Linked DNA regions of Homo sapiens. The protein of the gene in region 1 purifies or fractionates together with the protein of each later gene. This does not show direct contact. Each region holds a gene or a part of one and is shown in the gene's direction. Other genes may lie near its edges. The genes, in order: ARL6IP5, XRCC1, ARPC2, ATL2, RTN3, LMNB2 and ARPC1A.

The links.
Region 2: the proteins of ARL6IP5 (region 1) and XRCC1 purify together in Homo sapiens (affinity purification with western blotting; one study listed by BioGRID). This does not show direct contact.
Region 3: the proteins of ARL6IP5 (region 1) and ARPC2 purify together in Homo sapiens (affinity purification with mass spectrometry; one large-scale study listed by BioGRID and IntAct). This does not show direct contact.
Region 4: the proteins of ARL6IP5 (region 1) and ATL2 purify together in Homo sapiens (affinity purification with mass spectrometry; one large-scale study listed by BioGRID and IntAct). This does not show direct contact.
Region 5: the proteins of ARL6IP5 (region 1) and RTN3 purify together in Homo sapiens (affinity purification with mass spectrometry; one large-scale study listed by BioGRID and IntAct). This does not show direct contact.
Region 6: the proteins of ARL6IP5 (region 1) and LMNB2 purify together in Homo sapiens (affinity purification with mass spectrometry; one large-scale study listed by BioGRID and IntAct). This does not show direct contact.
Region 7: the proteins of ARL6IP5 (region 1) and ARPC1A purify together in Homo sapiens (affinity purification with mass spectrometry; one large-scale study listed by BioGRID and IntAct). This does not show direct contact.

What each region holds. Positions count from the first base shown.
Region 1 is NC_000003.12:69,091,437-69,094,936, forward strand, and holds part of ARL6IP5 (PRA1 family protein 3), read left to right. Parts: intron 1-3,500. UniProt on the Homo sapiens protein: Regulates intracellular concentrations of taurine and glutamate. Negatively modulates SLC1A1/EAAC1 glutamate transport activity by decreasing its affinity for glutamate in a PKC activity-dependent manner.
Region 2 is NC_000019.10:43,555,028-43,558,527, reverse strand, and holds part of XRCC1 (DNA repair protein XRCC1), read left to right. Parts: intron 1-3,500. UniProt on the Homo sapiens protein: Scaffold protein involved in DNA single-strand break repair by mediating the assembly of DNA break repair protein complexes. Negatively regulates ADP-ribosyltransferase activity of PARP1 during base-excision repair in order to prevent excessive PARP1 activity.
Region 3 is NC_000002.12:218,237,689-218,241,188, forward strand, and holds part of ARPC2 (actin-related protein 2/3 complex subunit 2), read left to right. Parts: intron 1-975; coding exon 976-1,162; intron 1,163-1,702; coding exon 1,703-1,796; intron 1,797-3,500. UniProt on the Homo sapiens protein: Actin-binding component of the Arp2/3 complex, a multiprotein complex that mediates actin polymerization upon stimulation by nucleation-promoting factor (NPF).
Region 4 is NC_000002.12:38,304,274-38,307,773, reverse strand, and holds part of ATL2 (atlastin-2), read left to right. Parts: intron 1-3,500. UniProt on the Homo sapiens protein: Atlastin-2 (ATL2) is a membrane-anchored GTPase that mediates the GTP-dependent fusion of endoplasmic reticulum (ER) membranes, maintaining the continuous ER network. It facilitates the formation of three-way junctions where ER tubules intersect.
Region 5 is NC_000011.10:63,688,000-63,691,499, forward strand, and holds part of RTN3 (reticulon-3), read left to right. Parts: intron 1-3,500. UniProt on the Homo sapiens protein: May be involved in membrane trafficking in the early secretory pathway. Inhibits BACE1 activity and amyloid precursor protein processing. May induce caspase-8 cascade and apoptosis.
Region 6 is NC_000019.10:2,446,960-2,450,459, reverse strand, and holds part of LMNB2 (lamin-B2), read left to right. Parts: intron 1-3,500. UniProt on the Homo sapiens protein: Lamins are intermediate filament proteins that assemble into a filamentous meshwork, and which constitute the major components of the nuclear lamina, a fibrous layer on the nucleoplasmic side of the inner nuclear membrane.
Region 7 is NC_000007.14:99,346,398-99,349,897, forward strand, and holds part of ARPC1A (actin-related protein 2/3 complex subunit 1A), read left to right. Parts: intron 1-2,454; coding exon 2,455-2,562; intron 2,563-3,500. UniProt on the Homo sapiens protein: Probably functions as a component of the Arp2/3 complex which is involved in regulation of actin polymerization and together with an activating nucleation-promoting factor (NPF) mediates the formation of branched actin networks.

The sequences.
Region 1 (3,500 bases):
GGCATGTGCCACCAGCCTGGCTAATTGTTGTATTTTTTTTTGTAGAGAAGGGTTTTTGCCATGTTGCCCAGGCTGGTTTCGAACTCCTGGGCTCAAGCAATCCTCCTGCCTTGGTCTCCGAAAGTGCTGGGATGACAGGCGAGAGGTATGGCTGGCACACCTTTGATACTATTTATGTAACTTTGTTTATCTGAACTTCTCTCCCCTCTCCGTCCAGCTTTTTTTTTTTTTTTTTTTTCAATGTTGCCTGCTACTTTTGGCCTTTGGTTGGTAGTTTCTGTTTCCTTTCCCTAGGTAAGGATTTACAATGATTCTAGGTAAGTGTGCAAATAAATGAGTGTATTTTGGATTCCTGGCCCCCTGTCTTAGAAAGGAGAAGCTCTCCATCAGCTTAGGGACAGAGAGCTCTGTACAGGAAATCCAGTTCAAAAAGGTCAAGACCCATTCTTGACCTACCCACTTAATATCTAATTAAGCATCAATATTGGAAATTTTGTATTTTTTATTTTTTGGACAAATGAATTCTATCCTTATCACTCAGCTTCAGAAAACTTAACCCTTAATACCATCCTCTGTCTCTTGAAATGAGCGTGGCTTCCTGTTTCTGAGAATGCCTTCACCCTTAATACCATCCTCTGTCTCTTGAAATGAGCGTGGCTTCCTGTTTCTGAGAATGCCTTCAAGCCCTGTAATTTTAGGCAAAACCTTCAGGCTAACAACTTCAGGTTTGCAAGCATTCATCATTGATATATGATAGGATTTCCTGGCCTTCCTTCTCGTTATGCAATTTGCTAAAGGAGACACCTGGAAGGCAGAAAGCCCTGCTTCTTCTAATCTGCTTCATATCTCATTGGTGCAGCTTCTCCTTGTCTCAGAGGAAAAAGAATGCAGAAATTGGGGGTTAGTGAGGGGTAAATAGACAGGAAACTTGTGAGAAGGAAGTCTGTGTTACCAAGCTCGTTAGCATTTGTCCAGCCCCTGTCTTCTCTCCACAGCTCTGTAAGAATTTGCCATGTGACAGTTCTCAGTAGCTTTTGTTTGTTTTGTTTTGTTAAGACAGAGTCTCTCTGCATCGCCCAAGCTGGATGCCATGGCAGGATCTTGGCTCACTACAACCTCTGCCTCCCAGGTTCAAGCGATTCTCCTGCCTTAGCCTCCAAGTAGCTGGGATTACAGGCACGCACAACTATGCCTGGCTAATTTTTGTATTTTTAAGTGATTACAGGCACACACAATTATGCCTGGCTAATTTTTGTATTTTTAAGTAGAGACGGGGTTTCACCATGTTGGCCAGGCTGGTGTCGAACTCCTAGCCTCAAGTTATCCCCCCACCTCAGCCTCCCAAAGTGCTGGGATTACAGGTGTGAGCCACTGTACCCAGCCTTTTTTTTTTTTTTTTAATTTTCTAAAATCATTCAAGAAGAACAGTTTGTAAACAAATATCTTTCCACTTCTGTTCCCCAAAAAGTATTGGTTGTTAAGAGTAACCATGGGTTGCTAATTGTGAAAGCAGTGATGAGCATACATGAAGATTCATTATACATTATTCTCTCTACCTATGTATATGTTAGTTTTCCATAATGAAAAGTTAAAAAGGGTTTTATGAAGTCTAATCAGAGCTTTGTACACAACTATTATTTGAAGCTCCGTCACTGTGGGAAGCGTCAGATTTATGGTTTCTAATCCGAGTCCAACCTGTTGTTTATTAAAAACAAAAGAAAATCTGGAGGTTCCTAAGGCATGTCTTAGTATGAACACTTTTAACATGCCAACTGTTAAAAAGACAATGGTTGGTTTGGATGCGAGTGTTTAATTTGTGCCAAATTACACAGGATACAGTAAATATTTAGGGAATGGCAAGAATACAATAAATCCTCTAGGCCTTCCTAATTCAGTTGGTTAGGAAAATCTCACTATGACCTTTCTGTAACAAAAGAGACAGGCTCCTGTTCAGTTTTACCTACTGTACAGTCTCCTTTATTCCATGATCCTTAGGCCAAGGAGACACTGTTCTCATTTACTCAAGACGAATTTGTGTCCAAAGCCCACATTTATGCCTATAGTCAAAAATAGCTCTCCACTTTGGGAGGCTGAGGCAGGCAGATCACTTGAGGTCAGGAGTTCGAGACCAGCCTGGCCAACATGGTGAAACATCGTCTCTACTAAAAATGTAAAAATTAGCTGGGTGTGGTGGCGCATGCTTTAATCCCAGCTACTGGAGAGGCTGAGGCAGGAGAATTGTTTGAACCAGGGAGTCAGAGGTTGCAGCGAGCCAAGATTGTGTCACTGCACTTCAGCCTGCCGACAGAGGGAGATTCTGTCTCAAAAAAAAAAAAAAAAGAAAAGAAAAGAAAAAAATTAAAAATTAGCCAGGCAAGCTGGCACTCACCTGTAGTCTGTAGTTTCAGCTACTCAGAAGGCTGAGGAAGGTCACTTGAGTGTGGGAGAAAGAGGCTGCAGTGAGCTATGACCATGCCATCATACTCCAGCTTGAGTGACAGAGGAAGAACCTTTCTTGAGGAAAGAAAAGAAAAGGCATATGGAGCTGTGCTCTGGTCAGAGAGACTGAGGAAAGGCTGGCTGAGCTGAGACTTGAAGGAGGGTGGAGTGAGGCCTGTGTGCAAAGTATCCTCTCTGCCTGATTCACCTCACCCTGAGATGGCAAAAGGCAAGGTGAGTTCTGGGGTAGATAGAAACCCTGAGTGGATGGGGGTGCAATCAGGAGATGGTGTGACAAACCTGGCAGGTAGGCCAGCTGCTAGCCCTGAGAGTTCCCTCATGCTAATTACTAAGGCACTTCTTCCTCTCCTAGCAGTTACAGCCAAAGCCAAATTTTGGCCTTGGCTTGTGGAGTGTGTGACCTGGATTCCAGGCCCCACTTACCCCCTCAGCCAGGCACCAACTCCACACCTATATACAGTGGCCCTGGCTGCAGAGGCAGGCAGGGGCCAGACCCTGCGAAGCCTTGTAGAATGTTTAAAGAATTCTGTTTTTAGTTTAAGAACAATGAAAAGAAAATGGTTGGGTGGGTTCATATTTGCAGTGATCCCTCTGGCTGATTAAGGACCACAGAGAAACATCGCCAATTTAGAGAAGTCCACCGTGAGTATATTGTTCCCCACTTTTTCGGTGAGTCAGCCTTCCTCAGAAACCACACTTCAAAAATAGCTTTTTCGGCTAGAAAATTGGAACTCAGTGCAAAGCTGCCTGTACTCCTCAGGAAATATTTTGCTGCCTCTTTGGTGGTTCTTTTTGGCCTTGCAGCCTGACAGGAGTCACCAAATGTGGCCTTGAGTTGATCCGAGGATTTCTGTTATGGCAAACTTTTATTGCCAACTTTGCAATTGGTGGCCTTGGACAAATTTATTAACTTGTATATTCTTTAGCTTGCTTACGTGTAAAATGAGGTGGGTTAGCAAGATCCTTCCTAGCTCTAAAATTTTGTGAGATTTTTTTTTCCCCTTTCAGTAACTTGTGGTAAAACTATAGACATAGCTACT
Region 2 (3,500 bases), on another chromosome or scaffold:
CCCCCCAAGTAGCTAGTGGGAGCCATCATGCCCGGCTAATTTTTAAATATTTTTTGTAGAAATAGGGTTTCACTGTGTTGCCCAGGCTGGTCTTGAACTCCTGAGGTCAGGTGATCCACCTGCTGCGGCCTCCCAAAGTGCTAGGATTACACATGTGAGCTGCTGTGTGTACCTGGCCTACTCTTTTTTTTTTGAAACGAGGTCTCACTTTGTCACCCAGGCTGGAGTGCAGTGGCACGATCTCAGCTCACTGCAGCCTTGTCCTCCCGGGTTCAAGTGATCCTCCTTCCACAGCCCCTCAAGTAGCTGGGACTACAGGCTTGCACCACCATGCCCAACTTTGCACTAGTCAGTGTGACAAGGTGAGAAAAAGAAAAAAGAAAACTATCTTTTTTCACAGATGGCATGATTGTCTATGCAGAAAATCCCAAGAGATCTAGACAAACTACAAGGTTTAGTAAGTGAAGGTCACAAGATGAGAAGTCAATATACAAAATAAACTGTATATTACACATCACTTCTGTGGTATTCTGGCCAAAGTGTGCAACCTAAATTAATCACAAGGAAACATCAGATACTTTGTACAATAAGTGATATCTGACAAAAATCACTGACCTCTACTCTTCAAAAACATCAAAGGCACAAACCCAAAGTCACAGGAGCCTTCCTTCCTTCCATTCTCCCTCCCCTCCTTCCCTCCCTCCTTCCTTTTTTTTTTTTTTTTTTTTTTTTTTTGAGATGGAATTTTGCTCCTGTTGCCCAGGCTGGAGTGCAGTGGTGCAATCTCGGTTCACTGCAACCTCCGCCTCCCAGGTACAAACGATTCTCCATCTTAGCCTCCCAAGTAGCTCGGATTACAGGCCTGTGCCACCATGCATGGCTATTTTTTTTGTATTTAGTAGGACAGGGTTTTCCCATGTTAGTCACCAGATGATAAATGCAGCTTCCCTGTCAGCTCCAAATCAGGCCTTTTATAAACAAGTATAGTCAAGGTCAGGAAGAAAACTTCCCTTCTGTATAATTGTCTTTCTTGTTTCCTTTGCATAATCAGCTGTGCACAAAGAGAGCTATAGTTATGTTCTGTTTTTCTCAGCAAAAGGCTTTATTGTCCAATTTTATAATTTCACAGCATGTCAGTTAGAAAAGAGACTAAGTCAGTAACAAAATATACCCAACCAAAAGTGGCTGCATTCATCTTTTTTTTTTTTTTTTTTTTTTTTGAGACGGAGTCTCGCTCTATTGCCAGGCTGGAGTGCAGTGGCGCAATCTTGGCTCACTGCAACCTCCGCCTCCTGGGTTCAAGTGATTCTCCTGCCTCAGCCTCCCGAGTAGCTGGGACTACAGGCACGCGCCACCATGCCCAGCTAATTTTTTTGTATTTTTAGTAGAGATGGGGTTTCACTATGTTGGCCAGGATGGTCTCGATCTCCTGACCTCGTGATTTGCCTGCTTTGGCCTCCCAAAGTGCTGGGATTACAGGTGTGAGCCACTGTGCCCAGTCTTTTTGTTTCGTTTTTTGTTTTTTGGCAGAGTCTTGCTCCGTCACCCAGGCTGGAATGCAGTGGCACAATCTCGGCTCACCATCACCTCCAACTCCTGGGTTCAAGCGATTCTTGTGCCTCAGCCTCTCGAGTAGCTGGGATTATAGGTGCCTACCACCATGTCCAGCTAATTTTTGTATTTTTAGTAAAGACGGTGTTTCACCATGTTGGCTAGGCTGGTCTTGAACTCCTGGCCTCTTGTCCACCAGGCTTAAGTGCAATGGTGCGATCTCAGCTCACTGCAACCTCCGCCTCCTGGGTTCAAGCAATTCTCGTGCCTCAGCCTCCCGAGTAGCTGGGACAACAGGCGTCTGCCACCATGCCTGGCTTAAATTTTGTATTTTTAGTAGAGATGGGGTTTTACCATGTTGGCCAGGCTGGTATTGAACTCCTAACCTCAAATGATCCGCCTGCCTTGGCCTCCCAAAGTGCTGGGATTACAGGCGTGAGCCACCGCGCCTGGCCTCAGCTTGGGTTTTTCAATGCAGATTGCTAACATGAATTGCTACTCTCAATTCCTTGAGAGAACAGACTTGTGAGGAGTTCTCCCGAGAAGAATTTTCACCTCTTCTTTGGTGTCCCCCCAAGCTAAGGCCAAGACAGACAGGCCTCCCAGGGACTCTTTCCACAGGCTTATTTCCCCTTCATGTAACTAGTGTGGGCGTTGCCTTTGGGGAGTCCTCAGTTCTATGCAGTGTGGTGAGGATCTCTGAGATGCCACTCTCCCTTGCTTGGAGCCTAGGTTTTCTCTCTTGTTCTCTTTCACCACCACGTGCATAACCCTTAAAGATCAAGTTCTAGCTGGGTGTGGTGGCTTACACTTGTACTTCTATAGCTTTGGGAGGCTGAGGTGAGAGGATCATTTGAGGCCAGGAGTTCAGGACCAGCCTGGGCAACATAGCAAGACCATGCCTCTACAAAAAATAAAAAATTAGCCAGGTGTGGTGTCGTGCATCTCTAGACCCAGCTACTCAGAGGCCAAGGTGGGAGAATCACTTGAGACCCAGAGGTCGAGGCTGCAGTGAGCTATGATCGCACCACTGTGCTCCAGCCTGGGTGACAGAGAAAGACCCTGTCTCTTAAAAAAATAATAATAATAAATAAAATCAAGTTATTTGCTATCTGGGATCAGCACCATGACAAACTACCAACATGAGTGCTGCCGGGTCAGTCAGGGTCCTTGCCCGGAGATTAAAACCACACCAGTTATTTTAACAGATAATTTGATAGAAAGAACCAGTAACTAGGTGTTACTAGAAGACTAAGATATGAGGGAGAAGCAACCGCAGGGAGTAGCTACCACTCCCAGGGTTGGGGGAACAAAAGAAAGGAGCAGGAATTATTGAAACGTAGATGTTTGGAAACTGGGAGGTGGGGCTCCAGGAGCTGAAATTCAGATCGTTTGAGGAGGGCTTCCTCCCCCACCGGCTGCTGAGAGGGGCTGAATGAGGCTGTTTCTGGAGGTATTGGGACACTGCAAACTGGATTCATCTGCTGCTGCAGGCAGGAACCACTGCAGCAGCAGAAGCTTAACTGGGGGTGATGCTCACAGGATCTGCAATGCACGAGAAGCTGGTCCTTCCTCCCTCCTGCAGCCTTGCAAACTCTCTCTCTTGCCCCCCCTATTGGCAGAGCCTGGTCACGATCAGCTAGGGAAGCAGAAAGGTGGTTTGCCAAGTGCGGGCCCAGATCACAGAGATGAGTTGTAGAGGGTAGGTTTGAGCTGAGAAACAATCACTTAATACTTAGTGCAGCTCGCCTGACTCTCTGGATTCTGTTTTCTCATTTCCAGCCTCTAGTAATTCCCCTTGCCTTTCCGCTGACTCACCTGTGCATTTCCAAAAGGTGTTTGAATATTGTGCCAGTTTACTGAATATTCTCTGCCGGGAAAGTTCCTTAGGACATGTAGCCCGCTGTATTGCCAGATATGGAAGACTCCATGGGAGAATTTAGATAAGG
Region 3 (3,500 bases), on another chromosome or scaffold:
CCCAAGTAGCTAGGATTACAGGCGCCCGCCACCATGCCTGGCTAATATTTGTGATTTTAGTAGAGACAGGGTTTTGCCATGTTGGCCAGACTGCTCTCAAAACTCCTGACCTCAGGTGATCTGCCCACCTTGGCCTCCCAAAATGCTGGGATTACAGGTGTGAGCCACCACACCCAGCAGTTTTTTTAAGGTCACAAAATGACAAGACTAGGATTTGGACCCAGTTCTGTTCGACTCAAAATAGAGTGCCCTACACTTATGTGTCATGCTGCATTTGGCAAGTCACGTCACTTCTTTGAATCTCCTTTTCCCTCTGCAAAACAGTAACCTTATCTAGCCTGCAGACTTCAAAGGTGGTTATGGAGATCAAATGAAGTAAAATGTTTTAAAAATTGTACAATATATACCAATAAAAGCTATTGGGGAGGTATATGTATGAACAGGTAGTTGGTTTTTCTACCCTGCCACCTCATAAAGAGTTTGCAGTGGCACGTAGAAGGGTTTATCTTATTATCACAAAGCTACCCATTTGCTGGCCATACTGATACTTGGCACATTAAACTATCAGAGAAATATATGTGGCTCCTTTACAACTGTGTCTAGAAGGGTACATTTCCAATCAGAGTTCCCAGGTTCTGACTTTCTCCCATTACATATTTGTAATTAGTCATCTTTGATACTGATTCAAATTTTTGATTAACATTAATTATATATATTTACAAGAATCTTATAAAAATTAAGATTTTATTTCACCTCATTTTGCCCTGTGAGATAGATGGAAATAGACTATATTCTACCCAGGTTAAAAGTACAGATAATGAGACAAAATGTCAATAGAACCTGAAAAAAGATTTTTTTAGTTGCCTCTAGTCTCTGTTTACTTGGTATAGATAGTATGCTGCTTTTTTTTTTTTTTTTTTTTTTAAATGTAACTGCTGGGTTGTTTTTTGTTTCTTGTTTTTTCTTTCCCTCCAGGATACAATGTCTCTTTGCTATATGACCTTGAAAATCTTCCGGCATCCAAGGATTCCATTGTGCATCAAGCTGGCATGTTGAAGCGAAATTGTTTTGCCTCTGTCTTTGAAAAATACTTCCAATTCCAAGAAGAGGGCAAGGAAGGAGAGAACAGGGCAGTTATCCATTATAGGGATGATGAGACCATGTGAGTATAGAATTTGGTCCTGAAGCCTGGATATGGCTGCTACACCACCATGGCACTTACTGAAAGAAATATGGCTTGGTCAAACTTTCAGCTGTATTGCGTGAAAATGTTTTTCTCATAAAATGTCTTAAGCCAGGAAGTAGATGATAGGGCAGAAATCAGCCACTCCTCCTACTCTCCAGATACTGAGAGCTGACAGATGGTGGAAAGAGAATCCAGTGCTTTCCTTTAAGGCACCACTGTTCTGAGTCATGTTTAAGAGTATAGCCTGGATAATCAGCAGGCAGGGTGACCATAGGTCCATGTTATATTTACAAGTCAATAAAATCTACTTCTGATAATTTCCATCTGCTGCCTCTCTTAGGGCATTCATTTTGTGCACTGACTTTGTTGACCATAAATATCATCTCATTTGGCACACCTTTATATTATGATTTAAGAGATTTATGACTTTAGCCTTCTGATGTACTTGTAGATCAAGTTATTGACAAAACCCCATTCTGATTCTGTACTTATCCTCATGGATTTTGTTCCTCTCAGGTATGTTGAGTCTAAAAAGGACAGAGTCACAGTAGTCTTCAGCACAGTGTTTAAGGATGACGACGATGTGGTCATTGGAAAGGTGTTCATGCAGGTATGGAGCAGACATCTTGGGGGAAACCCATGCATGGCGACTTATACCTTTGCACCCAAACATACCATGAGCGTAGGAAAGAGATCTAGCAACTCTACTGATGTTAGAATTTTTTTTTTTTTTTTCGAGACGGAGTTTCTCTCTTGTTGCCCAGGCTGGAGTGCAATGGAGTGATCTCGGCTCACTGCAACCTCCGCCTCCCAGGTTCAAGCAATTCTCCTGCCTCAACCTCCTGAGTAGCTGGGATTGTAGGCATGCACCACCACACCCAGCTAATTTTGTATTTTTAGTAGAGACGGGGTTTCTCCATGTTGGTCAGGCTGGTCTCAAACTGCCGACCTCAGGTGATGCCCATCTCGGCCTCCCAAAGTGCTGGTATTACAGGCATGAGCCACCATGCCCAGCCTTGACGTTAGAATTTGTTGAAGATTTAATAGACAACTCCCACAAAACTCAGTGAATATTTTTTGTTGCTGCTGCTGTTGTTTTGAGGTGGAGTCTTGCTCTGTCGCCAGGCTGGAGTGTAGTGGCACGAACTCAGCTCACTGCAACCTCCGCTTCCTGGGTTCAAGCAATTTTCCTGCCTCAGCCTCCCAAGTAGCTGGGATTACAGGCACGCGCCACCACGCCCAGCTAATTTTTGTACTTTTAGTAGAGATGGGGTTTCACCGTGTTGGCCAGGATGGTCTCAATCTCCTGACCTCATGATCCGCCCGCCTCAGCCTCCCAAAGTGCTGGGATTGCAGGCATGAGCCACCGCGCCCAGCCTGATATTTTTTTTCTCAGTGGTTTAGTTTTGCAGGACAGAACTAAAGGGTAAGTTGAGAATTAAACATACTAACTATGAATGAATGTTATGCATCCTTCCTACTGTGGGGTCTTTGACCTAAAACTTTGTCAGGTTTCCTAACCCTAACCTCTTGTGTTTCCTCAGATTTCTAGTAAGGTGGCTGCTCTTGGTTTGGTCCTAAGGTCTTTTCAGAATGGACTGTATAGCCAATTATTTGGTAGTAGATAACGCATGAACAGGTAGAGTTGTTGAACTGACAGACTGAGCCTGAGTTTGGATGGGTCACCATAGAGTACTTCCCTCACAAGAAGCTCATCTTAAGAAGAGTCATGAGAGGCCAGGCGCGGTGGCTGACGCCTGTAATCCCAGCACTGTGGGAGGCCGAGGTGGGCGGATCACGAGGTCAAGAGGTCAAGACCATCCTGGCCAACATGGTGAAACCCCGTCTCTACTAAAAAAATACAAAAAATTAGCCGGGTGTGGTGGCAGGCACCTGTAATCCCAGCCACTTGGGAGGCTGAGGCAGGAGAATCTCTTGAACCTGGGAGGCAGAGGTTGCAGTGAGCCAAGATTGCACCATTGCACTCCAGCCTGGGCAAAAAGAGCGAAACTCCGACTCAAAAAAAAAGAGAGTCCTGAGAGTTAGCAGGGCATTTTGTAATTGGATTTTTGGTGTAGTTGCATTCAGGTCATTGTGTACCAGTCTGCTGGCCAGTTAGTTGCTGCCTCTAGGATGGACATGAGAGTTCATTGGTCAAGTGACATTCAGGCTGGTTTCTTCTGAGATGGCTCAGCATTCAAAATCTAGTACAATGGTAAAATTTTTTGAAAACGTTACTACCTTCATTCTGTTCCTTGGCAGGGTGGTAAAGATTTTTAAATTCTGAAGCAGAATCTCTTTTGCCAAATAGAGT
Region 4 (3,500 bases), on another chromosome or scaffold:
TTTTTTTTTCTTTTCCCTGTAGAGTTGTTTGAACTCCTTATATAGTCTGGTTACTAATCCCTTATCAGACTAGTAGTTTGCAAATGTCTTCTCCCAGTCTGTGGGTTGCGTCTTCACTTTTCTGATGTGCAAAAGCTTTTTAACTTGATATGATCCCATTCGTTTATTTTTGCTTTGGTTGCCTGTGCTTGTAGGGTATTACTGAAGAAATCTTTTCCCAGACCAGACCAATTTCCTGGAAGGTTTCCCCAATGTTTTCTTCTTTTTTTCTTTTTGAAATGGAGCGTTGCTCTGTCACCCAGGCTGGACTGCAGTGGCGTGATCTCGGCTTGCTGTAACGTCCGCCTCCCAGGTTCAAGCAATTCGCCTGGCCTCAGCCTGGGCGACAGAGCAAGGCTCCATTTCAAAAAAAAAAAGAAAAGAAAACACTGGGGAAACCCTCCAGGACATTGCTCTGGGAAAAGATTTCTTCAGTAATACCCTGCAAGCACATTATCAAGTTAAAAGGTTTTGCACATCAAAAAAGTAGCTGGGATTACAGGCAGCTGCCACCATGCCTAGCTGATTTTTGTATTTTTAGTAGAGACAGGGTTTCACCATGTTGGCCAGGCTGGTCTCGAACTCCTGATCTCAGGTGATCTGCCTGCATCTGCCTCCCAAAGTGCTGGGATTACAGGTGTGAGCCATCATACCTGGCCACCAATGTGTTCTTTTAGTAGTTTCATAGTTTGGGTCTTAGGTTTAAGTCTTTAATCCATTTTGATTTGATTTTTGTATATGGCTAGAGATGGGGTCTAGTTTCATTCCTCTGCATATGGATATTCAGTTTTCCCAGCACCATTTATTGAAGCCACTGTCATTTTCTCAAAGTTTGTACTGAAGTACAACTTCCAGTACTGTGTAGAATAGCAGTGGTGAAAGTGGGTATCCTTGTTTTGTTTCAGATCTTAAAGGAAAGGCTTTCAATTTTTTCCCAGTTCAGTAAGATACTAGCTGTGGGTCTGTTGTATACAGCTTTTATTATGTTGAGATCTGTTTCTTCTGTACCTTTTGAGGATTTTTACCATGAAGGGATGTTGAATTTTATCCAGTGCTTTTTCAGCATCAATTGAAATGGTCATATGGTTTTTGTTCTTCATTCTGGTGATAACGATGTATCACACTCATTGACTGACTGATTGATTGATTGATTGGTGTATGTTGAACTGTCCTTGCATCCCTGCCTGACCCTAGGTGATGATGAATGATCTTTTTAATGTGTTGTTGAATTCAGTTTGCTAGTATTTTGTTGAGGATTTTTGCAACAGTGTTCATCAGGGATATTGGCCTGTAATTTTTTGCTGAGTCTTTGTCTGGTTTTGGTATCAGGGTAATACTGGCCTTGTAGTATTGGTTTGGAAATATTCCCTCCTCCTCTGGTTTTTGGAATAGTTGAGTAGGATTGGTATTAGTTCTTTAAATGTTTGATAAAATTCAGCAATGAAGCCATTAGCTTTCGGGCTTTTCTTTGTTGGGAGACTTTTTATTATGGCTTTGATCTCGTTACTTGTTATTGGTCTGTACGGGTTTTAGATTTATTCATGGATCAATCTTGGTAGGTTGTATATGTCTAGGAATTGATACATTTCTTCTAGGCTTTCCCATTTATTGGCATATAGTTGTTCATGGTAGCCTCTAATGATCCTTTGGATTTCTGTGGTATCAGTTGCAATGTCTCCTTTTTCATCTCTGATTTTATTTATTTGGGTCATCTCTTTTTTTCTTAGTGTGGCTAAAGGTTTGTTGACTTTGTTTATCTTTTTAAAAAATCAACTTTTTGCTTCATTGATCTTTTGTATTGTTTTTATTTCAATTTCGCTAACTTCTTCTAATTTTGGGTTTAGTTTGCTCTTCCTTTTCTGTTTTTTTAAGATGTATGGTTAGGTTGTTTATTTGAAGTGTTTCCTCTTTTTTGATGTAGGCACTTATTACCATATAGTTTCTTAGTACTGCTTAACGCTGTATCCCATATATTTGGTATGTTGTGTTTCCGTTTTCATTTGTTTCAAGAATGTGTTTATTTCTTTCTTAATTTCTTCACTGATCTAGTGGTCATTCAAGAGCCTATTGTATTAATATAATTTCCATGTGTTTGTATAGTTTCCAAAATTCCTCGTTATTGATTTTATTCCATTGTGGTCAGAGAAGATACTTGATATAATTTCAATTTTTTTGATTTTTTTTTTGAGACCAAGTGTCGCTGTTTTGCCCAGGCTGGAGTGCAGCGGAGCAGTCTCGGCTCACTGCAACCTCTACCTCCCAGGTTCAAGTGATTCTCCTGCCTCAGTCTCCTGAGTAGCTGAGACTACAGTAACGCACCACCATGCCCAGCTAATTTTTTGTATTTTTAGTAGAGATGGGGTTTCACCATGTTGGCCAGGCTGGTCTCAAACTCCTGACGTCAAGTGGTCCACCTGCCCTCAAGTGGTCCACCTGCCTTGGCCTCCCAAAGTGCTGGGATTACAGGCATGAGCCACTGCGCCCGGTCCTCTTTCTTTAGTTTCTAATAATACTTGCTTTATATATCTGGGTGCTCCAGTGTTGGGTGCATATATATTTACAATTGTTATATCCTCTTGCTGAATTGATCCCTTTATCATTATATAATGACCTTCTTTGGCTGATATAAATGTAGCTTCTTCTGCTCTTTTTTTTTGGTTTCCATTTGCATGGAGTATCTTTTTCCATACCTTTATTTTCAGTCTGTGTCTTTATAGATGAAGTGTGTATCACCATTTTTTAAAACCCATTCAGCCACTCTGTGCCTTTTAATTGGAGAGTTTAGCCCATTTACACTCAATGTTACTGATAAGTAAGGAGTTAACCTCTGTCATTTTGTTACTGTTTTCTGGTGGTTTTGTGGTCTTCCTACCTGCCTGTCTTCCTTTTAGTGAAGGTGATTTTCTCTGGTGGTATGTTTTAATTTCTTTTTATTTTTTGTGTATCTGTTGTATGTCTTTTGAGGTTACCATGAGGTTTGCAACTATAATATATTTATTTTAAACTGATAACACTGATTGCCTAAACAAACTAAATAACAAGGAAAGAGAAAACTAATAAAAATTCTACACTTTAACTTCATCCCCCCACTTTTTAAACTTTTCGTTGTTTCTATTGATAGTATACCGTCTATGTCTGGAAAAGTTGTGGTTGTTAATTAATATTTTTTATAGGTTCGTCTTTTAGTCTTTCTACTCAGGATATGAGTTGTTTACACACCACAATTATTGTTAATAATATTCTGTTTTTCTGTGTGTTTACTATTCCCAGTGAGTTTTGGACCTTCAAATCATTTCTTATTGCTCATTAAAATCCTTTTCTTTCAGATTGAAGAACTCTCTTTAACATTTATTGTAGGACAGGTCTGATGTTGATAAAATTCCTCAGCTTTTGTTTGAGGAAGTCTTTATTTCTCCTTCATGTTTGAAGTATTTTCACTGGATATACTATTCTAGGAAAAA
Region 5 (3,500 bases), on another chromosome or scaffold:
GAGGGAGGAGTCAAGATGTTTCCCAGAAGGCTTGGCATGAATCAATATGCTTAAATACTTATGCAGATTCTGACTAATAAATGTTGTTATGATACATTAGGAAACCCCTTTCAGCACAGAGGCAAGCATACAGGAGACAGCAAGAATGGTCATGTCAATATGGCCTGCAAATGCCTGCTGACTTGGATTGTTTTTATTCTCCAAGAATAAGAAGTGTGTTTTGCTTTTTTTTTTTTTTTTTTGAGACGGAGTCTCGCTCTGTCGCCCAGGCGGGAGTGCAGTGGTGCGATCTCAGCTCACTGCAACCTCCATCTCCCAGGTTCATGCCATTCTCCTGCCTCAGCTTCCCAGTAGCTGGGACTACAGGTGCCCACCACCACGCCTGGCTAATTTTTTGTGTTTTTAGTAGAGACAGGGTTTCACCATGTTAGCCAGGATGGTCTTGATCTCCTGACCTCATGATCCGCCAGCCTTGGCTTCCCAAAGTGCTGGGATTACAGGCGTGAGCCACCACGCCCGGCCAAGAAGTTTTTTTTTAATGCTGTTTTTGTTTATTGTCAAATTCACAAGTAATGGAACCACTCTGATCAAATTAAACAACCAATCTACATACATTTAGTAGGTGCACCCTTACCCTAAATTGTCATTTCTAAGGGGTTGTTCATTAAGTGGCTGGTAAGAACCTCAGTGTTTTTATTCTTGGTGTTTTAAAGATGGGCTGAAAATAAAAACCAATATTACTGCTTTTATCAAATTATCCTGTGAGGAAATAATATATTTATCCTGATATAGGAGTTACCTGTCTAGTCCTGTGCATGTTTCAAGCCTTGTAAAATGAAGTTTGGTCATGAAGGAATTGGTGACGTCTGGTTGAAGGGAAAAGGGAAAGTTGAGCTTTCCAATTTTGTTTGAGTCAAGAGTATATTTTGCAGAAAGACACTTCTCTTTACCCATAATCCTAGAATTTACCATTTTTGTAATTCTGAACAGAATTACAAAGGCTTCATTAAGTAAGTAGGTTTTCTAATATAAATGTGCATATTTGTTGTGTGCACTTAGCTTATAGTTTGTGTTAACTTTATTGTTGATGATGAATTTAGCCTCCTAAAGTATACAAACTTGTGAAAAATTCATCAATTTTGTAGTATAACTTTTTCTCTTAATTTAGCTAATACTCTTTGTATTGTTCTAATTTTGGTATATGTGCTGCTGAAGTAAGCACTCATAGTAAAACTTTTTAGACAAAAATTAGCAGGTCGATATTTTGTTCTTATAATTGACTTATTCAGAAGTTGCCCAGAAAACTGACTTAACCTTCTATTCTGTTCATTTATGACAGCTACTAGTTGTAGAGTTATTTTGGATCATAGGGTATGGTGTTGATGTTTTGAAAGAAGTGTGTGTGTTAAATAAGTTTAGCTGTAATCAGTATTGCTTGTGATTGCATCATTGAAGTCTTCTGGGCATCTGTGAGTTTTGTAAGACATGTTACTCTGTGATATTGCAACCTCAGAGAGAATCTCTTTAAATACTGTAACGGGGTTTGCATTTCCATTTTACGTATGGGAGAAGATTATCAGCAAGTGGCCTGCTCTTGTGATTTTTTTTTTTTATTTCAAATAACTATTCTTACCTGTTTTCTCCAATCAACTGATTTATTATCTCCTATAACCATATCATTGTAACCTAACCAGAGAAGACAGTGAGCTTATCAGCAAGTGGCCCACTCTTGTGATTTTTGATTTTTTTTTTTTTATTTCAAAGAACTATTTTTTTGAGACAGAATCCCCCTCTGTTGCTCAGGCTGGAGTGCAGTGGTGGGATCTCTGCTCACTGCAACCTCCGCCCCCCGGGTTCAAGCGATTCTCCTGCCTCAGCCCCCTGAGTAGGTGGGATTGCAGGCTTGTGCCACCATGCCCAGCTAATTTTTGTATTTTTAGTAGAGATGGGGTTTCACCATGTTGGTCAGGCTGGTCCCGAACTCCTGACCTCAAGTGAACTGCCCCCGCCTCGGCCTCCCACAGTGCTGGGATTACAGATGTGAGCCACCACACCCAGTCTCAAAGAACTATTCTTACCTGTTTTCTCCAATCAACTGATTTATTATCTCCTGTAACCATATCATCATAACTTAACCAGAGGGAACGGTGAGCTTTTTGACCTGTTCCTCATTGGTAGCTCGCCCTTCAAGATATATGGAAGGACATTCTGGAAAACCTTTTGTTATGAAAATTGTGTCCTGTTATTTGAACATATTTCAGTGGAGGGCATTGTCTTTATTTTACGTATGAGATAGAAGTACTTGATTTTCACGATATCTTACATTTGTGTACTGCTTTATGATTTAAGTTGTGCCCATATGTTACCTTAATTCAACAACTGAGCATACATGAAGGCTCTTTGCCAGGTGCTGTGGAAGACAGAAAGGTAAATAAAATATAGATCATTCCTCTAGAGGCCATATTCTATAGAGGAAAGACTTGTATTATGTTTATCTGTGAGGTAGACAGGTAGCGATATAACCCCCTTCTTACAGATGGGGACTCAGGCACAGAGAGTTTAATGCCCACGCTTTAAGATTTGAAGCAACATGTAGTAAAAGTGGCTCAGTTACCCTTTTGAATTCAGTGATCAGTTTAATTTAAAAGTCTTAATTTCTGGCTCCACGGTTCTTAAGCCAGGTGCCTTTTTATTTCACTGCTCTACAGAAACTTTCTAGTCAAGTTCACCAGATATTTTCCACATTGTTAAATTCAGTGGTCACTTCATCCTCCTCTTAACATGCTTTCACAACAGCTTTTGACATAATTGATTATTCTCTCCTTGAAATGCTTTTTTAATTTGTCTTCTGTGACACCACATACTCACTCTCACTGGCTTTTCATCCTCTGTCTCCATAAAATTCACCATTTTAAGGTGGGTTTTAGTGTATGCACAAGGTTGTACAGCTATCTCCACTATCTAATTCCAGAACATTTTTATTACCCCAAAGAGAAACCCCATATCTGTTAGCAGTAATTCACCGTTCTTCCCTCCCCTCAATTCTCTGACAACTATTAATCTGCTTTCTGACTCTGTGGATTTCCTTATTCTTGAGATTTAATATTGCTAATTCTTTTTTTTTTTTTTTTTTTTTTTTGAGATGGAGTCTCACTCTGTCACCCAGGGTGGAGTGCAGTGGCACGATCTCTGCTCACTGCACCATCCGCCTCCTGGATTCAAGCGATTCTCCTGCTTCAGCCTCCCAAGTAGCTGGGATTATAGGCATGTGCCACCATGCCCAGCTAATTTTTGTATTTTTAGTAGAGGCAGGGTTTCACCATGTTGGTCAGGCTGGTCTTGAACTCCTGACCTCAGGAGATCCACCCTCCTTGGCCTCCTAAAATGCTGGGATTACAGGTGTGAGCTACTGCGTCCGACCTAATTATTTTTATTTTGATAGAGACGAGGTCTCACTATGTTGCCTAGGCTGGTATTGAACTCCTGGGCTCAAGCGATCC
Region 6 (3,500 bases), on another chromosome or scaffold:
GCCTCAGCCTCCCAAAGTTGTAGGACTGCAGCTGTGAGCCACTGCTCCCAGCAACATCCATCATGTATTCAGACTTCCTCAGTTTCCCCGATGTCCTTTCCTGCCCCAAGACCCCATCCACTATCTCACGTGACATTTAGTGACTACGTCACTGTCTCCCAGGCTCCTCCAGGCTGATAGTTTCCCCCACGTTCCTGGTTAGAGGTTCTGGTTGGTCCTGAGCGGGCTGGGCAGGTGTGCAGTAGGATGTTCCTCAATGGGGGTTTGTGTGTTGTTTTGCTCATCGTCACGCTGGGGCGATGGGATGAGTAATGTTTTAATGGAATATATATATATATGTGTATATATATATGTATATGTATATGTATTTTATTTTCTTTTTTTTGAGACGGAGTTTCACTCTGTTGCCCAGGCTGGAGTGCAGTGGCGTGATCTTGGCTCACCACAACCTCCGCCTCCCTGGTTCAAGCGATTCTCCTGCCTCAGCCTCCTGGGTAGCTGGGATTACAGGCATACACCACCATGCCCGGCTAATTCTGTATTTTTAGTAGAGACAGGGTTTCTCCATGTTGGTCAGGCTGGTCTCGAACTCCTGACCTCAGGTGATCCAACTGCCTTGGCCTCCCGAAGTGCTGGGATGACAGGCGTGAGCCACGGCGCCCAGACATATGTATATTTTTTTTGAGACAGGGTCTCTCTGTACCACCCAGGCTGCAGCGTAGTGGCGTGATCTCAGCTCACTGCAACCTCTGCCTCCCGGGTTCAAGTGATTCTCCTGTCTCAGCCTCCCGAGTAGCTGGGATTACAGGCGCCTACCACCACACCCAGCTAATTTGTGTTTTAATAGAGACAGGGTTTCACCATGTTGGCCAGGCTGGTCTCGAACTGCTGACCTCAAGTAATTCGCCCGCCTCAGCCTCCCAAAGTGCTGGGATTTCAGGCATGCACCAGCGCACCGGGCCCTAATGGATTATCTTTTAAAAATCAATTAATTCAAAAAATCTACAATGAACAAACTATTAATTCAAGTCAGGTGTCGTTTAGTGACAGGGATACCTTGTGGAAAGCGTGTCGTTAGGAGACGTGCCCCTTGTGTGGGCATGGTAGAGTGCACTCCCACACTCCCGGATGGTGGAAGCCACCACACACCCAGGCTTGGGCGTGGCCTCCTAGGCCACAGACCCACACCGCCCGCTCCTCTGTGGAATGCTGTGGGCACCGGTTACACAATGGTAAGTATGTGAGCATTTAAACACGAGAAAGGGCTGGGTGCGGTGGCTCCCGCCTATAATCCCAGTACTTTGGGAGGCTGGGGCAGGCAGATTGCTTGAGTCCAGGAGTTTGAGACCAGCCTGGGCAACATAGCAAGACCCCATCTCTTAAAAAAAAAGTTAGAAACTAATTAGGCAGGCATAGTAGTATGTGTGCCTATAGTCCCAGCTATTGGGGCAGCTGAGACAGGAGGATTGCTTGAGCCCAGAGTTTGAGGCTGCAGTGAGCTGTGATTGCGGCATTGCTCTCCAGGCTGGGTGTGGCTCTGTCTCAAAATAAGTAAATAAACACAAGAAAGGTGCAGTAAGAATATGGTATTAGATTCTTTTTCTTTTTATTTTTTGAAGTGGAGTCTGGCTGTCGCCAGGCTGGAGTGCAATGGCCCAATCTTGGCTCACAGCAACCCCTGCCTCCTGGGTTCAAGCAATTTTCCTGCCTCAGCCTCCTGAGTAGCTGGTATTACAGGTGCACGCCACCATGCCCGGCTAATTTTTTTGTATTTTTAGTAGAGACAGGGTTTCACCGTGTTAACAAGGATGGTCTTGATCTCCTAACCTCGTAATCCGCCCACCTCAGCCTCCCAAAGTGCTGGGATGACAGGGGTGAGCCCCCATGCCAGGTTTGCATTAGAGTCTTACAGGACCGCCGTGCACATGGTCTGGGGGTGCTCAGCATGCCTCTGTGCGTGTGGCTGCCATTGCAGAGTTGCTGTTTTTTCTCACCTTGAACGGGCTCCTGTGTGTCCCGGCGCTGATCTTGTCTTTGTTGGAAACTCTGCTGTTTTGTTCATCCTGGCCCCTCTGCCTCGTGAGCCGCAGTCAGCTCTCTCTCTGTGGGGACAGGAGAGCTCGTGTGTGACCCCCATCCTGAGGGTGTCCCGTCAGCCCCTCCCTTGAGGTTAGGGGTATTTGGGAGCTTTGAGGGAGAGGCAGACACCACCATGCCTGCACCTGGTGCCCAGCTGTTTGCAGCGTGGAGCTGGCCGCTTTTTCCTGATTTGGGTTTTTCTAGAAGTCTGTTCCCAGGACACAGATGTGGAGGGCACGGCCCAGATGATCGCCTGCATGGGAGGGAGGGCTTGGGGGTGGCCGGGGTGCCGCGGGAGGAGCTCGCTTTGCACTGCTGCCTCTGTGGGTCCCCGTCCTACAATTGGTCCCCGCAGACCTGATATGTCTAGGACCCAGCGGTGGTCAGGAGGCGGCTTTTTACTGACCCGTGCCTCAGTTTTCCCATACATAAAATCAGGTTGGGAACCCTTATCCCGCCCCACTGTAGGCTGACGGGACTTGGAGCTGCGGTGCTGGGGCAGCCTGAGACTCTGACTTGTCCAGATGGCCCAGCATGCGTTGGTTTGAGGCTGAGGGTCCCACCTCAGAAGAGGCCCGGTCACTGCCAAGGGGTGCGTCCTGGCAGGCCCCCAGCCCTCTGCACAGGAGCCTCGCCTGTAACATGGGGGTGTGGCCCTCCAGATGCAGGCCGACCCTGTACCCACCTTGCATAGACACCCTTGGCCCTGTAGGGCTGTGGGAACATCACGGCGTTCTAGCGGGTGGTGCTGGGCCTGGTTCCGCCTACCATCCTCCGGTCCTCCTTTTCCTCAGCGCCAGAGCCGGAGCAGTTAATTCCCGCCTCATAAGGTTCACCCAGCTCACCCGTAGGTTTCGCGTTTTCATATCTCCACAGCTGTGCCACCACCAATGTGTCCAATTTTAGAACGTTCATCCCCACTAAAAGAAGCCTGTCCCCCTCAGCGGTCACTCCCCGTCCCCTTCTCCAGCCCCGCTGCCCACACACCCGCTGCCTGTGTCTGTGCACTGGCCTGACCTGGACATTTCATGGAAATGGGATTACACACTGTGTGGCGTTTTGTGTCTGGCGTCTCATGAGTGTGACATCCTCAAGGGGCATCCACACTGTGGTGTCAGAACCTTGCTCCGTTACACAGCTGGGTCATGTTCCTGTGTGTGGATGGTGGAGGGACCGCATTGCTTTTATTTTTTTATTTATTTTTATTTTTCATTTTATTTATTTATTTATTTATTTTGAAACTGAGTCTCGCTCTGTCTCCCAGGCTGGAGGGCAGTGGTGCGATCTCGGCTCACTGCAAGTTCCACCTCCCGGGTTCATGCCATTCTCCTGCCTCAGCCTCCCAAGTAGCTGGGACCACAGGCGCCCACCACCACGCCTGGCTAATTTTTTGTATGTTTTTTTAGTAGAGACGGGGTTTC
Region 7 (3,500 bases), on another chromosome or scaffold:
GCAATCTTACAAATTTCTACAGGAAACTTTTCTTCCAAGTTAAGCTTCAACCTCAGTAATTGTTTACATTTTTATTCGTTGAGAATTAGTGTCAAGTATAGGTAAATTGGACTTTATTATGGTACAAGGTATTGTCTTTGAACAAGCTGTATGTTTAGGGCAGTTTCTCAGCTGTAGAACAATTATTTCATATTTCATAGGAGTACTTTAAAACAACTTCTCAGAAGTTTATAATTCAGCCATATGAACTAATTATTTTGCTTGCCATCTTTTCCTTAATTAAAAAAATTACATTATAAAGGCCAGGCACGGTAGCTCACGCCTGCAATCCCAGCACTTTGCGAGGCCAAGGCAGGCGGATCACGAAGTCAAGAGTTCGAAACCATCCTGGCCAACATGGAGAAACCCCATCTCTACTAAAAATACAAAATATTAGCCAGGTGTGGTGGTGCATGCCTATAATCCCAGCTACTTGGGAGTCTGAGGCAGGAGAATCGCTTGAACCAGGGAGGTAGAGGTTGCAATGAGCCGAGACCATGCCACTGCACTCCAGCCTGGGCAACAGAGCAAGACTCTGTCTCAAAAAATATGTATACATTATGAAACAATTCGAAATACTGTCTTTTTCTCCTTTTTTAGAGACTTTGTGGGGGATTTTGGTTTTTTATTTTATTTATTTATTTATTTTTTGAGACAGGGTTTCTCTCTGTCACCCAGTCTGGAGTACAGTGGTACAAACACGGCTCACTGCAGTCTCCAACTCCTGGGATCCAGCAGTCTTGCCACTTCAGCCTCCCAAGTAGTTGGGACTACAGGTTTGCACCACCACACCTGGCTAATTTTTTGATTACTTGTGGAGACAGGTTCTCACTTTTCTTGCCCAGGCTGATCTCAAATTCCTGTACTCAAGCAATCCTTCTGCTTTGGTCTTCCAAAGTGCTGGGAGTATAGTTGCAAGCCTCTGCACCTGGCTGTCTTTTTCAGAATGAACTTCTTCAGACAGGATACTAAGAAAGTGATTCTGTAGCCAGGCGTGGTGGCTCATGCCTGTAATCCTAGCACTTTGGGAGGCTAAGGCAGGCAGATCACCTGAGACCAGGAGTTTGAGACCAGCCTGGCCAACATGGTGAAAGCTAATCTCCTCTAAAATTACAAAAATTAGCCGGGCGTGGTGGCGTGAGCCTATAATCCCAGCTATCGGGAGGCTGAGGCACAAGAATTGCTTGAACACAGGAGGCAGAGGTTGCAGTGAGCTGACATTGCGCCACTGCACTCCAGCCTGGATGACAGAGTAAGACTCTGTCTCAAAAAAATAAAAAATAAATAAATAAAAGAAAGTGATTCTTGCTTGACCCCGGGAGGTGGAGGTTGCGGTGAGCTGAGATCACGCCATTGCACTCCAGCCTGGACAACAAGAGCGAAACTCCATCTCAAAAAAAAAAAAAAAAGAAAGAAAGTGATTCTATAGAAAGGTAATTTAGCATTGAAGGAAAGGCATTGGCTCAATATTTAGTCTCCCAACTGTTGAGCAACCAGACGTGATTGGTTTTTAAACAGCAGTTTGGGGGCAGAAATGAATTAGTTAAGCCAAAATACTGACTGGTCCTAGACATAAATCATCTTTTTTGGATGGTGCTAGCGAATTAGAGGCTAATCCCCAACATGAGGTTCTTCTAATTTCTTGGTTGTGATTTTTCAGTGAAAGAAATTAAAAAGAATTTGCAGATTCGTGGAGACTTGGGAAGGATATTAAGCTGTCTTACAACCCCAAATTCACCAAAAATTCAGCAAATCACTGAATATTCATAATAAAAATTGAAGTATTTTCAAACTTCAGTTTTTATCTCAGAGGTTAACGTCCTATGTAATCCGAAATCTCACGAAAACATAACTGAGTTAATCAATATCTATGCTTACTAATGAGGACTGCTGAAAACCAGCTGTTGTGCTGAGAACATCAGGGCCAGGAGTGGAGAAGGCCTGTTCATGGTTCTTTTCCTTTCTGTCCTTTAGCAATGCACCTTGTCAGCTGGGCGTAGTGGCTCATGCCTGTAATCCCAGCACTTTGGGAGGCTGAGGCCGGTAGATCACTTGAGCCCCAGAGTTTGAGACCAGCCTGGGCAACATGGAGAAATCTCATCTCTACAAAAAATACAAAAATTAGCCAGTCTCAGATCATAACCTGGTATCAAAAAACCTTGTCTCTGGCAGAAGGCCTGGTGACCGACAGAAGAACGTTGAATGCTCTGTTACTTTTCTATAGAATCTTTTTTTATAGAAACCTATCTGAAAAAGTTTATTCTGAAAAAAATAATATTCTGAATTGTTTTATAATTTTTTTTTAAATTAAGGAAAAGTGTGGCCTACTTAGGTATTTTCACCTGACATACATTTGTAGGTCATTTGGGGATGCTGGTTGAGTGGATAAACTGAAACAGTTTTCCCCTCTCATAGGTGGGTGAGCAAGCACATTAAAAAGCCGATTCGCTCCACAGTCCTCAGCTTGGATTGGCATCCCAACAACGTTTTGCTGGCAGCAGGATCATGTGACTTCAAATGCAGGTGGGAACCAGTGAGAACTGATAAACTTGAGCCGTGCATTCTTCATCCTTCAACAAATAATTTTAGGTTCTCTTTCTTTGTTTTTTGTTTTGTTGTGGTTGTTGTTGTTTTGAGACAGGGTCTCACTCTCACCCAGGCTGGAGTGCAGTGGCACCATCATAGCTCACTGCAGCCTCCAATTCCTGGGCTCAAGCGATCCTCCAGCCTCAGCCTCCAGAGTAGTTGGGACTACAGGTATATGCCACCACACCTGGCTAATTTTTTTAAAATTGTCTTTATTCTTTGTAGAGACGGGGTCTTGCTACATTGCCCAGGTTGGTCTTGAACTCCTGGCCTCAAGTGATCCTCCCTCCTTGGCCTCCTGAAGTGCTGGGATTACAGGCATGAGCCAGTGTGCCTGGCCTGTAAGTTTCCTTTTCTTTGCAAGGTACTGCGCTAGGCACTGTGAGGGACTCAAAAATGAGGCCTGGTGCTGTGGCTCACACCTGTAATCCCAGCACTTTGGGAGGCTGAGGTGGGCGGATCACCTGAGGTTGGAAGTTCAAGACCAACTTGGCCAACATGGTGAAACCCCGTGTCTACTAAAAATACAAAAGAGGCCGGGCGCAGTAGCTCACGCCCGTAATCCCAGCACTTTGGGAGGCTGAGGTGGGCGGATCACAAGGTCAGGAGATCGAGACCATCCTGGCTAACACAGTGAAACCCCGTCTCTACTAAAAAAATACAAAAAATTAGCCGGGCGTGGTGGCGGGTGCCTGTAGTCCCAGCTACTCGGGAGGCTGAGGCAGGAGAATGGTGTGAACTCGGGAGGCGGAGCTTGCAGTGAGCCGAGATCACACCACTGCACTCCAGCCTGGGCGACAGAGCGAGACTCTGTCTCAAAATAAATAAATAAATAAAAGTTAGCCTGGTGTGGTCACAAATGCCTGTAATCCCAG